2 linked regions of the Homo sapiens genome follow. The protein of the gene in region 1 purifies or fractionates together with the protein of each later gene. This does not show direct contact. Each region holds a gene or a part of one and is shown in the gene's direction. Other genes may lie near its edges.

What was found. The genes of interacting proteins can lie anywhere in the genome.
Region 2: the proteins of PCDH1 (region 1) and DBI purify together in Homo sapiens (affinity purification with mass spectrometry; one large-scale study listed by BioGRID and IntAct). This does not show direct contact.

Annotation. Positions count from the first base shown.
Region 1 is NC_000005.10:141,864,314-141,868,822, reverse strand, and holds part of PCDH1 (protocadherin-1 isoform 2 precursor), read left to right. Parts: coding exon 1-254; intron 255-344; exon of another isoform or gene 345-1,353; intron 1,354-2,620; exon of another isoform or gene 2,621-2,751; intron 2,752-3,395; coding exon 3,396-4,509. UniProt on the Homo sapiens protein: May be involved in cell-cell interaction processes and in cell adhesion.
Region 2 is NC_000002.12:119,365,207-119,370,420, forward strand, and holds the start of DBI (acyl-CoA-binding protein), read left to right. Parts: upstream 1-1,770; 5' UTR 1,771-1,845; coding exon 1,846-1,854; coding exon of another isoform or gene 1,855-1,884; exon of another isoform or gene 1,885-2,130; coding exon of another isoform or gene 2,131-2,322; intron 2,323-2,352; exon of another isoform or gene 2,353-2,378; coding exon of another isoform or gene 2,379-2,438; intron 2,439-2,507; exon of another isoform or gene 2,508-2,713; coding exon of another isoform or gene 2,714-2,725; intron 2,726-2,981; coding exon 2,982-3,099; intron 3,100-5,214.

The DNA of each region.
Region 1 (4,509 bases):
TTGGGCTGCAGGTGGCAGAGGACCAGGAGGAGAAGCAACCACAGCTCATTGTGATGGGCAACCTGGACCGTGAGCGCTGGGACTCCTATGACCTCACCATCAAGGTGCAGGATGGCGGCAGCCCCCCACGCGCCAGCAGTGCCCTGCTGCGTGTCACCGTGCTTGACACCAATGACAACGCCCCCAAGTTTGAGCGGCCCTCCTATGAGGCCGAACTATCTGAGAATAGCCCCATAGGCCACTCGGTCATCCAGGTGAGAGGCCCCCTCCGTATAACTGTCAGGGTGACCCACCACTAGAAATGGGAGCCCACCCAACCAGGTGAGAGTTCCCTTCACTTAGGGGAAAAACTGCCAGAATACTGTAGTGAGACCCCTTCTCCCCAAACTCAGCCAGGGGAGTCTTTCCCACCCCACCCCAGCAGGTGATATTACTTTCCTCTATCAGGCTACTTAGGTGACAGTGAAATAGCATATGAACAGTTTCCCGTGACCCCTAAGGCAGACTCAAGCTGGGGGAACCTCTGAGAAGTAAAACTCCCGCCCTAGTCAAGTAGATCCTTCTCTGCTAGCCAGGTGAGCTGAGTTGGAACAAAGGAATCACCGTTTATCCAGGTAGAATCTCTCCTGAGATGAGAGTATCTTCCCAACCAGGGATAGTTTCTCTTTAGCCAGATGAGGTTTTCCTGAAGCTGGAGGATATAGCCTCATTTTGCCTCTTCCTGACAAAGTCAGATGAGATCATTTTAGCCAGGTGGGACCCTCAGAGTTCTGAAAAAACATACTAGGGTGTCTGTATACATGCCTCCTCCCCTAGGCATGGGGTGCCCATAGATGTGGGGTGCTTGGTACAGTGGGGTTCAGTGGGGGGTCAATTTCCTCTGTTGAAGTTCTCAGCACCCCTCTCCATGGGAACTGCCCCAGGCGCTAGGCAGCTTGGTGGGGCTGGGGACTGGGAGGGAGCAAAGAAAGCGTCTCTGCAGACAGGTGGGTGTATCTCCCGCTGTCATCTCAGCTCTGGCCTCCTGCCAGCCCCAGCTCCTTTCCCCTTCCCCATGGGCTGAAGATGCCTCTCTCTTTGATGTGAGGGAGCTGAGGAGGCTCGGCCTGCCCTGGACACCATTACCCATCCTGGAAAACCCTTAGTCCTGGGTCCTCAAGCCAAAGTGGGAGATGGGTGGGAGTTTCAGCCTTTTTTTTTTTTTTTAGAGCCTGGTGGACTGGGACCTGGAAAAGAGACTGAGAAAGAAAAGGGAGACAGACAGTCGGGGATAGCAAATAATAATAGCCTAGGTGCCAGGCACCGTTCTAAACACATGATGTGTATTATATCATTTAATCCTTACAGTACAAGGTAAGTATTATCCCCATTTTGCAGATGAGAAACCGGGCCCAAACAGATTAGAAAACTCGCCTGATATCCTACAGCTAATGAGTTCAGAGTCCACCTTTGCCGCAGCCAAGAGTCTGGCTTCAGAGCCTAGGTGTGTAAGAGCTTTACCACCTCCCAGTGAGGTGAAGCGGGAGAGTAGGGCAGAGAGTAAGCAGAGAGGTCAGCAGGGCTGAAAAGAGAGGATGGAAGAAAACAGGCTGTGGGAAAGGGGAAGAATCAGAACTGAGCAAGGATAGAAAGGAGACAGAAGCCAAGAGTCACAGAGACAAAGAGAGGTAAGACAAGAGACAGATAAGCTGGAAGACCAATCTAGAGCCAAGGGAGACTGGGGATCCTCATCATAAAGTTGATGACAGGTAGACTGGGGTGAGGGGAGGAGAAACTGTTAGGGTTTGGCACTCAGAGATGTGAGCAGAGACCAGGGTACCTGGGGAACCATTGCCCAGGAGTCTTCACTGTAGGAAAAGCCCAGGCGGGGATAGCTGGAGTTCCCATTCCCAAGGAGGAGAGGACTGGCAGTGGCTTGAGGGCTCACTAGGTGCAGTGCCCACTACTGCATTAGCACTGATTTTTCAGAGGCAGGCGGGTAGGAGGGTAGATGGTTGGACAGACAAAAAGAAATACATGCTCTTTAGGGAGCACTTTCCCTGTGCCGGGCAATGTCAGGCATTTTTACCTGTATTATCCCATTTGATGCTCACCACAGTTCTGTGAAATAGGTTACATTATTATCCCCATTTCACACATTCATAGACTGAGGCTTAGGGAGGTTAAATAATTGGCCCAAGGTCACATAGTTACTTGGGAAGTGGTATAACTGGGATTTGAACCCAGGACTCTTCTGTTTTGTTACCCCAGAGACTCTGCCAAGTTATGCTTATTCTCCCCTCACTCCCCACAGCAGTCACATTCTGTCTGGCTGTGACCTAACTCCAGCCCTCATGTTTCTCCCTGCCCAGTAGTACCCCATGGCCATTCCCACCTGGGTCCTCTTCCCCATTACCAACCATGTTTGTATAGAGTTGAGTCGAGTGCGCGTTGGAGTTGGCGTGGGAGGGTGTGCCCGCTGACTGCAGAGGGACAGACAGTTCATTGTTTGATGCTGGGAGCCCAGCCCACTGCCAGCAGGCTCTGTGGCCTGCATCAACCCCTCCCTCCTGGCTGCAGGCTCAGGCCGGATTCCTCGCATTGGTGCCTCGCCAGCCGGTGCCAGTCGGGAGGAGAAGTTGCTGCTGAAACAGGTTTCCCCGGTTTGACAGAGCGGTGGCTGGGGCCCGGCCTGGAGGGCTTCTCTGACCCACAACCCTACCTGACTTCTTTCAAAAGAAATCCCCCAACCTGGGGCCTTCAGATGGGCATGTGAGTCTTTACTCATGTGTGCAAACACACATATGCACAAACACATATACCTTCTCACACAAAAATCACACATAATCACACATTCTGACACAATCATACACATACAAACACATATACCTTCTCACACAAACATATCACATTTAATCACACATTCTGACACAATCATACACATACATATGTGCATGCGTGCGTGCATGTAGTGCACATTCACACGGGCACACACACCGCCTCTACTACTCGCACCTCTCCATCTCTTCAGGAGGGTTCAGGCAGGGTTCATTGGTGAAATGGCTTCCCTAGTTCTATTGGATCCTCATCCTCTCCTGGTATTTTTGTGGACCCATACAGCAATGACAAGTGAGGTTTAATTCTGCCCTGTCCCATCTCCAATAGTTGCCTGTAGCACTGTTGAGGATTTGCAGGCTGCATCTGGGCTCTTCAGGAAAATAGGTTAGTAATGCCTGCCAGAATGTCCGAATTGGGAAAAGGCAGGACACACATGGCTTCTGGAAAGGGAGCGATGTTGGATTGGCTGTGTCTGCCATGCTTGTTGGAAAGGACATTGGCAGCATGTGTGCCCCTTTATTTGCTATCCCTGATCTAAACCATCTCTGTTCTCCTTGTTTTTCTCTCCTGCCCTATAGGTGAAGGCCAATGACTCAGACCAAGGTGCCAATGCAGAAATCGAATACACATTCCACCAGGCGCCCGAAGTTGTGAGGCGTCTTCTTCGACTGGACAGGAACACTGGACTTATCACTGTTCAGGGCCCGGTGGACCGTGAGGACCTAAGCACCCTGCGCTTCTCAGTGCTTGCTAAGGACCGAGGCACCAACCCCAAGAGTGCCCGTGCCCAGGTGGTTGTGACCGTGAAGGACATGAATGACAATGCCCCCACCATTGAGATCCGGGGCATAGGGCTAGTGACTCATCAAGATGGGATGGCTAACATCTCAGAGGATGTGGCAGAGGAGACAGCTGTGGCCCTGGTGCAGGTGTCTGACCGAGATGAGGGAGAGAATGCAGCTGTCACCTGTGTGGTGGCAGGTGATGTGCCCTTCCAGCTGCGCCAGGCCAGTGAGACAGGCAGTGACAGCAAGAAGAAGTATTTCCTGCAGACTACCACCCCGCTAGACTACGAGAAGGTCAAAGACTACACCATTGAGATTGTGGCTGTGGACTCTGGCAACCCCCCACTCTCCAGCACTAACTCCCTCAAGGTGCAGGTGGTGGACGTCAATGACAACGCACCTGTCTTCACTCAGAGTGTCACTGAGGTCGCCTTCCCGGAAAACAACAAGCCTGGTGAAGTGATTGCTGAGATCACTGCCAGTGATGCTGACTCTGGCTCTAATGCTGAGCTGGTTTACTCTCTGGAGCCTGAGCCGGCTGCTAAGGGCCTCTTCACCATCTCACCCGAGACTGGAGAGATCCAGGTGAAGACATCTCTGGATCGGGAACAGCGGGAGAGCTATGAGTTGAAGGTGGTGGCAGCTGACCGGGGCAGTCCTAGCCTCCAGGGCACAGCCACTGTCCTTGTCAATGTGCTGGACTGCAATGACAATGACCCCAAATTTATGCTGAGTGGCTACAACTTCTCAGTGATGGAGAACATGCCAGCACTGAGTCCAGTGGGCATGGTGACTGTCATTGATGGAGACAAGGGGGAGAATGCCCAGGTGCAGCTCTCAGTGGAGCAGGACAACGGTGACTTTGTTATCCAGAATGGCACAGGCACCATCCTATCCAGCCTGAGCT
Region 2 (5,214 bases), on another chromosome or scaffold:
AGATGTATTTGACTGCAAATCTGGCCCACACAAGCAATAATCTGAGTTTCCATCAAGGAAGCTGTAAGCACCAAGTAGAGCAAAAACAAATCCAGGCCTCAAATGGAAAAAGCAGCTCTGAATTGTGATTTTCGAAGAAACCTGCATTTCTTACACTTCAGTGTACTTTCCCCATATTTAACTCCAAGATTTTTGTTAATTTGTTTGGTTTTCCTTTCTCAAACAAAATTATGCTCAGACTGAAAACCCTAGATTTGTTCCCTATTGCATCTTCATTTCTTCCCAAACATTCCATAAAACGTGACCTACATTAAGTTAGCAAGTTAAGTCTGAAAGCGTCTACCTTCCCTGGGGAGGGGGAAGGTGTAGGCAGGGCAGAGATTTGTAGTCCAGCCCTCTTGCCACAAATTATGAATTAGAGAGGAATGACTTTGCTTTTTTAATGATCTCCAGAGAATTTTCCATCATTTCCCTCTCTTCACCCAGCTCCTTTGCAACCACTGCCAGAGAAGTCTTCCTTTAGCTTCTTAAACATCGATCCTAAAACACTTCCAGACACCTGTGCTGCTCCTTTCAGTTCCCATGGAGATTAGGCTGTGTAACAATCTCGCAAAGACGTTCCCCTCCGTCTCCTCATCCTCTTTTCAAACCCTTTTACGATTTCCCATCTCACTCAGCATGACAGTCAAAGTCCCTGTGATGGCCAACTTCTGCATCACCTAGCCAGTCTGCCACCGCCAAAACTCTCCAGCCTCATCTTTCTACTCTTCCCCTGGTTCCTTGCCCACGCCTTTACACTTGTTCTCTGCTTGGAATCTTCCCTCCCCTCCTTGAGGAACTTTCTCAAATGTCACCTTCCCTCAATACTCCCCCTCCTCCATTTAAAACTATAAACTTCCAACTCTCTAAGCCCCTAAAGTACTCTATATTTAACTTATTGTATAAACTACTGTCCCTACTTGTAAGTTCCAAGATTGCAGGGATTCACCCGCTTTGTTCACTGCTGTCTGCCAAGGTCTAGAACAGTGCAAGTTACCCAACAGGAGTTCAATAAACAGCCATTCATTTAACAAATATTTGCTGAGCACTTCGTCCCGTCCAAGTTTGTTAAATCAAGACAAATAAGACACCGTCCCTGCCTTTAACGCACCAGATGGAGAAATGCACCACAGACATAAATGTGCAATACAGGCCTGACACTACGGCCACAAGCAAGTCAAAGAACGTGCCAAAAGTTCAGAGGAAGAAGCCTCGGCTTCGCCTTTCGGGAGACCAGTCCAGCTTTCCACCATCACGCTGCTCATCAGGGACCATCTCCGGGGGTCTCCTCTAGACCCCAAGGGAGGAGCGGGTCCCGCCCGCCATTCCCAGGTCTCAGAGTTTACTTGTCCAGAGATGCAACTTCCGGCCTCTTCAGGCCGGGCAAGATTTAAGGAAAGAAAAGAAACATAAGGACCTCCGTTCTTCGGTCTCCGTCCCCTCCCCTTCCCCCGCGTGCCGTCCCCACAACGGGCCAGGACTGAACCCAACTCTCGACCAACTCCCGGCAGCAAAACTAAGCACCCTACTTCCGTTGTCCCCACCTGTTCCCGGCGTCCCCTTCGGCTACTCCCGGCGTTTGCGCAAGCGGTCCCACGTGGGCTCGGGCGGGGCTAGCGCCGCGGCGGGGGCTGGGCACGCCCCTAGCGCATAGCTGGCTTCTGATTGGCTTTCCGGTGCTCGCCCGAGCAGGGTTGGGGCGAGTGGACCGCGCCTCTAAAGGCGCTTGCCAGTGCAATCTGGGCGATCGCTTCCTGGTCCTCGCCTCCTCCGCTGTCTCCCTGGAGTTCTTGCAAGTCGGCCAGGATGTCTCAGGTACAGCGCGTGCACAGCCAGGCTGCGAAGGTGCAGCGGGCGGGAGGCCCGTTGGGGGCTCAGCCGGCTGCCAGAAGCTCTCGGGCTCTTTCCTTCCGTGCCCCTCACTTGCTCATGGGCCCATGCCTAGCCCTGATTCGTTGGACAGAGCCTTGTGAGCGGGATTTTCCGTTTGGGGATTTCTAAATCTGCTGCCCACCCCGCAACTGCCGGAAAGTTGCCCATGGGGTGGACTTCGCTGTGTAGCGGGAGAGGGGTGGGAGTCGAGGGTGCTTGATGGAGAGATGGGGGAAGGGGTTGCACGGATTGGAGGAGCGAGGAGACTCAGTCCCCATCCCGAAGCACAGGGCAGGACGTCGCGGCGGAGTGGGGAAGCGAGGAGTCCGTGGCCGAGAGCTTGGAGGTCAGGGGAAGTACGGGGCCGGCTGCTCAGAGTGCGGGACGAGGAGAATCGCGGCCCGGGGAGAGGTGACCCAGGGGCCCCTCCCTTCTCTCCAGTGTAGACCCTTGTCTGAGACCGAGCTATGTGGGGCGACCTCTGGCTCCTCCCGCCTGCCTCTGCCAATCCGGGCACTGGGACAGAGGTCGGTGTTGAACGCGCGGGCCCCAGGGGGAGGGAGGGGACCAACGGGCTCCGGCGCTGACACCGCGGCACTCATGCCCTGTCCCCTTTCAGCTGTTTCCAGCATACTGTGCCCCGTCTGTCCTCAGGCCAGGGCTTCGCTGCAGCCCCGGCCACTCCCTAGTGCCTGGCCCGGTGGTGGCCAGGCAGTTGGCCGCGCTGCTTCTCCCGCAGAGGGGACCCCCACTGGGGGCGAAGGCTTGGCCTGCCCTCTTCACTGCTGTATTTCCAGACCTGATGCCTGCGTTTGTGAGAGCTCTGGATATATGGTTTTCGATTGAATGAGTGAACTGGAGGGGCTTCCCCTTCTTGTGTTGCTGAATCTTTCTAGCTGCCCTGTTGGGGCAGGGAGGGGCAGACACACTTCAGGGGCTGCATTGCCCGAAGGGTGCCACCTTTCCCACCTCTCCATCCCCGTAACTGGGCTGTCATCAGGCCACAGTAGGATTCTTACCCTCTCCCACCCAGAGGAGGCCCTCAATCCTCTCCTCTCCCTTCCATTTAGGCTGAGTTTGAGAAAGCTGCAGAGGAGGTTAGGCACCTTAAGACCAAGCCATCGGATGAGGAGATGCTGTTCATCTATGGCCACTACAAACAAGCAACTGTGGGCGACATAAATACAGGTATGCAGAGCGGGGGTTGGAAGGGCATCTGCTCATCAAAGCAGGCTCAGCAGCTCAGACTGGAAGTCCCTGGGAACTTCACTCTCAAACTGCCTGAGGCCCTACTCTTCAGGTGGGGTATGGTGATGGTTCCTGAGGTGGAAAAGACCATGTTCCGGATTCTCAGTGTCTCCAGTAGTAACAGAATTCAAATCCTGGTTTTAGAAGGTCTTTACTGGTTATCACCAGCAGCTACTCTCTACTAGGGAAGAAGCAAAGGCTGCAGCTTGGAAAAGACTTGCTGAAGGCTCTCAGCTCAGTAGTATCATTGTTGAGCCGTTCAGCTTCTGCCCTAGATGGGCAGGATCAAAGTTGGAGCACTTTTTGGAGCACTTGACAGCCTGGCCAAGCCTGATGTCAGGAGCAGAGAAGCACCTGGTTTCTTGGGCTAGGTCAGAGCATTTCGCTAACAAGTCTGTGCCTTCCTGATGATAACTTTTTCCCTGCCCAGAAATCTTGGTGCAGATTTTGAGGCTGTGCTTTGGACTGTCATGTTCTGTAATAACATCTTTCCTGCCTTGGGCAGGTTTCATTCTGTCCCTAAGTCCCTGAAACATGGGTGGATACTGAGGCAACAGCGCAGTGCATTCTGTGCAAGGACTCAGGGTTATCATGGCAGCACAGAAGGGAGGTCTCCCCTGCCCCTGCTGAGGAAGAAGGCGAGCATGGTCCCTATTTCCGCAGTAGCTGGGGTGGAAGATGGAGCAGGTGGGCTGGCTGCCAACCAGCTGGAAGCAGGAAATAGTACCCAGAATGACAGATCACAGGCAGTACCATATCAAACCCTGGGGTTCACATGGAGCACTTAGTTGAAGAAGGTCTTATGGCGAAGGTGAGTTTTACAGTGAGTTCGTAAACTCTGTCCTTCCAGGGAGGGGAAGGAAAGGTGAAGTGGGGGAGGCCAGAGGTGCCAAGATGCTTTTCTGACAAACAGTATTTTCACAGAGACTGGCCTGTGCCCGTACTAGAGTTACCGATTTTCACATGAGTCTAGATAGACTGGCATAGGAATCTATCACTTACTGATCAAAGAGGTGTCATCGGCTCTCTCTAGGGCTGTACTATACAGCCCTATTACACGATTATAAAACATGATAGTCCAAACACGATAGTTTAGTATAATAGCCAGTAGCCACATATGACTATATAAATTTTAACTGAGGCTGGGCGCTATGGCTCATGCCTGTAATCCCAGCACTTTGGGAGGCCGAAGCAAGCGAATCATGAGGTCAGGAGTTTGAGACCAACCTGGCTAACGTAGTGAAACCCCATCTCTACTAAAAATACAAAAATTAGCTGGGCATGGTGGCATATGCCTGTAGTCCCAGCTACTTGGGAGGCTGAGGCAGGAGAATCGCTTGAACCTGGGAGGTAGAGGTTGTGGTGAGCCGAGGTCGCACCACTGCACTCCAGCCTGGGCAACAGAACGAGACTCTGTCTCTAAAAAAAAAAATTTTAACTGAAAATAGTTAAATAAAATCAAGTTTAGTCTTCATTCACAGGAACCACATTTCAGATGCCCAGTAGTCATTTCAGGTACTTGGTGTGGCAAGTGGCTCCTGAATTGGACATTGCAAATATACATGTACATTTCCATTTCCACCGCTTGGAGAGAGCTGTCGAGGAGTGCTATTCTAGGATCCTGATGATGACCACAAGGGCAGTTTGTTTCAGCTGTCCCTGGGAACACTTCCCTGAAAGCGCTCAGGGACATTTTCTCAGGCACAGTGCTCCAGGCTACGGACTCTGATTGTTCCCTGTGGCTTTGGGGCTGGGCATCGTAGTGAAATAGGACAACAGGGAGATGGTGAGTGTGTTTCCCAACTGCAGATGACAACAGGTCTATAAGCATAAAGTCATCATATAACTTAAAGAAACCTTACCCTCGGTGAAATCTCCCACAGATCAGCAAGAAATAGACTAACAATTCGGTAGAAAAATGGGGCTAGGATATAAACAGTTCATAGGAAAGGACACCTGATATCATTAATGATTAGGGAGAGAAATTGGGTAGCTAACAGCAGGGGTGAGAGAGAAACTTTATAGTATTTTCCTCTGTAGCTTTTGAATTTTAAG